Homo sapiens: one gene and its partner. The protein of the gene in region 2 purifies or fractionates together with the protein of the main gene of each other region. This does not show direct contact. Each region holds a gene or a part of one and is shown on either strand. Other genes may lie near its edges.

What was found.
Region 1: the proteins of AQR (region 2) and PPP4R1 fractionate together in Homo sapiens (co-fractionation; one large-scale study listed by BioGRID). This does not show direct contact.

The regions. Positions count from the first base shown.
Region 1 is NC_000018.10:9,548,521-9,552,175, forward strand, and holds part of PPP4R1 (serine/threonine-protein phosphatase 4 regulatory subunit 1), read right to left. Parts: intron 1,879-3,655; coding exon 1,758-1,878; intron 1,667-1,757; coding exon 1,532-1,666; intron 819-1,531; coding exon 677-818; intron 1-676. UniProt on the Homo sapiens protein: Regulatory subunit of serine/threonine-protein phosphatase 4. May play a role in regulation of cell division in renal glomeruli. The PPP4C-PPP4R1 PP4 complex may play a role in dephosphorylation and regulation of HDAC3.
Region 2 is NC_000015.10:34,851,203-34,854,818, forward strand, and holds the end of AQR (RNA helicase aquarius), read right to left. Parts: 3' UTR 580-3,616; downstream 1-579.

The sequences.
Region 1 (3,655 bases), on a different chromosome or scaffold from region 2:
AGGGAGAGCAAACATAGGTAGGTACCAGCCCCCATACTGCAGATTGCAAGTGGCACGCTGCCAGGCAATGGTTTGTACATAAAAACAACACCCAAGTTTAAAAACTAAGTTTTAGGTCAGGCACGGTGGGTCATGCCTGTAATCCCAGCACTTTGGGAGGCTGAGGCAGGCAGATCACATGAGGTCAGGAGTTCGAGACCGGCCTGGCCAACATGGTGAAACCCCATCTCTACTAAAAATACAAAAAATTAGCTGGGCGTGGTGGCGGGCACCTGTAATCCCAGCTACTGGGGAGGCTGAGGCAGAAGAATTGCTTGAACCCGGAAGGCAGAGGTTACAGTGAGCTGAGATCGCACCATTGCACTCCAGCCTGGGTGACAGGGCGAGACTCCGTCTCAAAATATCAAGCAAACAAAAAAACCTAAGTTTTAAATGATAAAAATGATACATGCTTCCGATAAATAAACTCCAACTAGAACAGTAGAGGGCTAATTAAAAAATCCCTTTCATCTTCCATGCCCTCTTGGGAGAATCACCGGAACAACTAAAGTATTTCCTTCCACCAGATTATTTTCTCTGAGCAGACAATACTTCTGCTTTGATATCTGCTGATCCAGTGCAGTCCACAGACCTCCTTCTCTACTCACACGCTTCTTCTAGTGGAGTCACTACCTACCTTTTTCTAGTAGAGTTTGTCTTAATGTCTTTGCAAGCAGCACTCGCACGTTAGGAACCCTGTCATTTGCTAAGGTTAGCAGATGCGGCATGAGATGCACAGCAAACTGGTCCATGGGAAGGCAGTCATCCTCAATGACAGTCTGGGGAAGAGAAACAGCTGCTCTAGGCTTCTCTGTCAATGTAGCCAAAAACTCGACTACTGGCTAACAAAATCTCTGAGTGACCACAGGTACAAATTTTAGTTATTGCTTTTTAACCAAAATTCCACGTACTTGGGAACTCAAATCAAAAATTACATAATTAACTGCCCACACGGACAGACACAGTTTTTAAACTGCTCTACGGAGACCTAGAGTGTTCATTCACAGGTGTTTCATTTTCACACCTGCGCTCTGGGTCCCAGACATGAGCACCCTCTAGTGGGAACCGTGGTATGGTATATGTGTGCACAGTATGTGTGTGGTGGGGTACATGTATGTATGCCTGTGTAATATGCAGTGAGGAACAGTGAGGAACATGCATGTATGTGCACTGTGAAATGTACATATACACACGTCTGAATGTGTGCAGAGCAGAACACGCACATACCAGGCATGTGGTGTGGAACAAGCACATACAGCAGGCACGTGGGGTGTGTGTGGTGCATGCCAGTGTAAGGAGGGGCTTGGCTAGCTGGGAGAGAGGGGCCACCAGATGCCCAACAATGGGGGCAGATGATCCTATAAACAGCCAGGCTACTATAAGGTTCTGTTCCTTAAGAGTAAGGAAGAGGGTGAGAGAGAGGTAGGAAGTTAAAGAAGACATTCTTCTAGGAGAAAAACTCACAAACAGGTAAGCCCAGGGCCTCGCTTACCTGGCAGACAAAGACAAAGGCTTGCCGACCAGACCACTTGGGACATCTGCCAAAGTTCTCCACAAGCTCATTGATGAGGTCCACTCCGAACGTTGGTGGTGTTGCCGCGTGCAGCTTCTTCACCATCTCGCTGACCTGGGAGGGTGAGCATGGAGAAATGAGGAACAGCTTCCATTCTAGGATCTTAGAGTTTGCTGATCTAAAATTTTAAAAGTTCAATACATACCAACTTGTAGGAAATCCAACGAACAGAAGAAACTTTGTCTGCACACAGATTCAGAGCAATGGGACGTAAATAGTCATAAACATCTCTGGGACTATATAACTCTAGAAGTAAAATCAGCTGTCTACAAAAAGGAATTACAAAAAGACAATGTTTAAAAATCAGCGAGACAAATGAAAATAGGTTACCCATTTAAATCATCTGTAATACTGGATTACTGAGCACCTGTCTCAAACATACGCAAAGAGGAGTGATTAAGCAGACCTCTCCTGTACAGTTACCTCCAGTCTCTGTGTATCTGGAAATGCACTTACATGCTATTCAAGTTCCTTAGAGTGTAAGGAAAACAAAAGCTGTAGAGTTCTGCATCCATGGGGACTGAGACAGAGCAAAGCACTTCCTAGTATGTTCAACTGGAACATGGCCCACACTGATCCATGGTCACAGTTTGGAATGTGCTGAGAAGCTTCCATCTACAATCAAGTTTCTCAGTAAGAAGTCCCCGCAGAGGGAGGGAGTCCACTGTGTACCTGTCGAGGCTCTGAGGAGCCTTCCTGGAAGGGATTTGCTAGGGATAACAGAGGGAGGGTGTCCTCCAGCAACCTTCCCATCACATCTGAGGGGCCCTGAGACTTTCATGACATCTACCAAGCTAACCTGAAAGCTTCAATGATGGCCTTGAAGAAATACCTTGGATGTGAGACTTTTGCCTTTCAGATTTTATGTTCAAGAGGATTTACATTTCTAATAAGCAGAAAGTCAACTGTAACATGAATATAGATTATGCAGCAATGATAAATGCACCTGTGTATACAAATATGCATCCTCAAAGAGACACACTTATTTTCTGACAAAATTCAAAATAAAAATTCCAAATAGGACCAGTTTCTGCTTAGAATACAGAAAACTGCAAAGAACGTCACTGACCCTACAGTAGAAAAAGCTACATAAACTTCAAGATCTTTTCTTGAGCCCATCAGAGAGCTGGGGTTGCAAAGCACACAAACAACCTAACTTCCCAAGATGGGAAAGAGAACTGCCCCTCAGCAGAGCCCGGATGGACAGGACACCTGCTAGCACCTAACAGGGCAGGGAGAAATCAGCTCGAATTGCAGTCAGCTGCCCAGGGCCAGATGGTGGCTGGCAGGAGCATGGGGTGGCTCAAACAAAGCCAGATGTGCCCGACACAGGGAGCTCACATTCCCAGACAACCTTCTGACTTCCACAGGGTACCTGCCTCCCATGGGTGCTTCAAGAAAGATGGTCAGGAAAAACAGGAGAGATGTCTCATAGCAGGCAGAAGCAACTGACTGACAGCCATGAATCATCAAGCACTCTGCTGGGCCCTTTTCTCGTGCAAAGCAAAAGGCTTAACCTGCTGGTGGAGGGGCCCCAAAGCCTGTCCACCCTGTGGGCCCAGCAAAAATACTGCAACTGTGGGAGAGGAGAACTAATGCTCCTTATTCCAGGAGGAGCTGTAGGAAGTCCTGCCCGAGACCAAGCACAGATAGGAGGTCCCACCCATTACGCAGGGGTGCAGGTACCGCTAAACGCCGGGTGGAATACTCACACTAGAAGACCACTGGTACCCCAGCTGCCACCCTCAGCAAACGACAATGGTAGTGGCAGCCCACAGCGAGAAAAACTGAAGCCCCAAGTACACTGAACGTAACCACAGCAATCACAAAACGCAAACCCAGCTTGACCCTGACTAGATGGACTCACACCCCGGCACTATATGGCAGAAGAGGAGGCGTGTGTTTTGAGTCAGAAGTGGGCAAGCCAGAACTCAATGGAGTGGCATCTTTAATATACTGAAAGACAAACTGTCAGCCCCACATTCCATACTCAGCAAAGACATCATTTGAAAATGCAGGTGAGGTCTATAATCCAGAATATAT
Region 2 (3,616 bases):
ATGAAAATACAGTAACACAGTAAGCACTTTTAGTTCACTTTGTGGACAACTGAACTAGAAACCAGATGGAAAAAACTAAGCAACCAACCAACCAACCAATCAAAAATGGCCCAAATGAACCAGTGAACTAAAGTAGAAAAGGATCACTTCCCATCCAGAACTGTTTTTCGAAAAATGTCAATAAATTCAGCTCTTAAAAGAGCTTTTTATATTAAACCAGGCATCTTTCAAAGAGAAGCAGCTACCTTTGAGGTTCTTGAACTTAGGTTGCAACACAAAGATAAGTATAATAGAGAGAGTGCACAATGTTAAATCAAAGGTAGAGGGGAAGAGGATTGTGGGGACAGTTATTCTGGAGATCAAGAAAGAATTCAGTATGCTTAATGCAAAGTAACTGCTGGGGTCCTTGTGTGTTAAATATTCTTATGCGAGGAAACTGTCTTCATGTTTTATATTTGCCTTCATTTTCTTTTATTATTTCCAGACCACCTCTATTGGTTATGCTAAGTAATCCTTTTCTCTTTTTGGAGTTTAAACTTTTTAAGGAAACAAAAACTAAAGAACAGAAAGCCAGACACATTGGAAATACAAACTCTTCTTTTACTGCATAAGAAATGAGAAGAAAAACTTAGTGTGAAATTCTGGAGTCTAAAATTAAAATGTAAACAGAGAATGCTCAGTGACCTTTTCTTAGGAGGCTCACATGAAGGAATGTCATGGTACATTGACCAAACTTTTATTCATTTGCATTTTCAGGATGTTGCGATTAATACCACATGACACTCAATAAATTACACTACGACATTTTGTACAAATCACTTCACTTCTGGTTTCCTCTTCGGCTGTTACTTCACCCTCTGGTTACCTGTAGGGAAAAAAAATGTATTTTGGGGCTTTATCTTTAAAGGGCGATTCACAGTTCTAGCCAATGTAAAGATATTGGTTCCCAAGGAAATAGCTACCTAAGTTATGTTTTTTTTTTTTTTTTGAAGGAGTTTTTGCTCGTCGCCCAGGCTGGAGTACAGTGGCGCCATCTCAGCTCACTGCAACCTCCCCATCCCGGGTTCAAGTGATTCTCCTGCCTCAGCCTCCACAGTAGCTAGGACTACAGGTGCCTGCCACCATGGCTGGCTAATTTTTGTCTTTTTAGTAGAGACGGGGTTTCACCATGTTGGGCCGGATGATCTCGATCTCCTGACCTCAGGTGATCCGCCCGCCTGGGCCTCCCAAAGTGCTGGGATTACAGGCGTGAGCCACTGCACCCGGCTCGTGTTCTAAGGAAATAGCTACCTAAGGTATCTTATTAAAACAAATGAACAAAAAGTTTCCCAAACTGTGTTCTAAGGAAATAGCTACCTATCTTATTAAAAAAAAACAAAAACAAAGTTTTATGCTCTAATAAGTTTGGGAAATGCTAGGTTAAACAAAGCTAAACATGATTCTTTCCAGTGGGACATCTGAGAGTCTTTAATTAGCTAACAGTGCATTGTGATTCTGCAAAGGAGGAACAATAATTCACTGTTTCCCAAACTTATCTGACCATAGAACATATTTCTCAGAGTATTTTTCAAGAGTAGTATTTTCTGTAATATATGATGAAAAATAATCGTATCGGCCATCTTTGTACATAAGGTCAAAATGTCAGGCAGCCCTGAAATAAACGCAAGCCAAAAGGTAGAGAGATAAGTGAATAAAGCTGGCACACTGTCAGTCCGGAGTACCATGCTGCATTCTGAGTCAAGCTCCAGGAAACTGAGCTAGGGTTTGTCTCTAAGAAGAAAAACTGGAGCGTCCAAAGCTTCTGGATTCCATTTAATTAAAACCCTTTTAAATTAAATCCTTGTAACTGAAGAGTATCGGTGGATGAAGAAAAAATAGTCTCACATGTCTTCATTTCCATCCTTGGCTCAGTACAGCTCCAGTTCCATTATTCTTAAACATCTATTAACATGATTGCTAAATAATTACACAGGCTAACTGCCAAGCATTTTTCACAGGAAGCAAGGCACTGCTCTTCTGGCTTATGCAAAAGGGTCACTGTTTTTTTTTTTTTTTTAACTTTATCTTGTTTTGATTGAAGAAACATCTCTAAAAATACCATCTGAGTGCAAGATAAAAAGGAAATAGCAATTCAAGGCACAAAGCTAAGCACATGCAACAATATAGATGATTTGGGGGTGGGACAGTACAGAATTCAGAACTGATAGAAGTTATCAGCTCCATATTTCAGAAAGACCTAATGTCTTCCTTCTGCTTATACTGTTCTGACAGAATTTTAATTTTGGCAGAGATCACTCTCGATGTTATGATGTACTGATTCAGAGGTCCCAAATCAGTAACCTGATCCTAGATAGATCCTCAAAGGTCAACTGCCACTAGGTGTCCCCTTCTTGATCATTCTTCATGCTGCCTGGATTGGGGCATGGCTAAGCACTCAAGTCAAAGGATTAGTTGGCAATATCCTACATTGTCAACAAAGCTTTGAAGAAAAACAGAGACAGAAACTGGTATTTACTAAGTACCTAGGTGATAAATTATTTTCATAAACATTACCCTATAAAACAGACAACTCTCCTGTCCCAAATCCAAACAGATCTTTTTCCTTTATTTACAGATAAAGAAAATGGGCTTAGAGAGGTTATAAAATTTGTCTAAGGTCTAACCAAATGCTGATAAGCAAATTAGGTACAACTCTGAGCCAGGTCTCGATGAGTCCAAAGTGTGTTTTATAATATCTTGCTGTCTCTTGATCATTACAAAATTTCATTTGTTTACAGGAGCACAAATGGCCTATTTATGCCTTTTCTCTCAGCATCTAGCAAAACATCTCAACTTTTATTACACCAACTTTGGGAGTCTTGATGATGTTTAAATCTTCTCATTCATTTGCCTAAATCAATAGAGCTATTTATCCTCAACTGTTGGCAATGAACTTTCTTAACTCAGAATTTTGAAAAAAAAAAAAAAAAAAGAAGAAGAAATTCTAAATACTTGAATTGCTTCATTTCATGCTCATTCTTTTGGGCATGGCTCTTTTTGGTTTTCTTTACAAAGAGATTCTAAAATCATGACACATTTAGATATGAAAAATAGGATGGAGAGCAATGGGAACACTAATCTGAAATAGTCACATGGCTAGAGTACCTGTGTCTGTAGTAATCCCAAACTATATAGAAAACTCTTGAATTTATTAAGCAATCCCTCATGTGTGCTTGATTGAAAAAATAAACAAAGCAGTGCCGTAGAACTGTAGACTTGGATTCTACCCCCACTCTTCCATAGTTGCCACCCTGGTTAAGTCTCTCTGATTGTTTCCTCATTATTTAAAATAAGTACAGCTCTTAAATTCCTTCAAAAATTCCCAAGATTCTACAGTCAACTGCCACTCACTTGCCTTTCCAATGAATAAACCGTTTAAAAGAATTCAAATCCCACCACCTTTACCCTTTCTAAATTCTTTTGACAAGGACAAAGGACTTACCCATCCATCTTCCACCTAAATTTGCTTTTTAGTGATAGAAAAACCAAGCAGCAAAGAAAAAAGTATGGTCACTCATCTAGGCAAGAGTGATGTACATTGCTTGGACAATAGTTAAGGAGAGAGCACTTAACAGCC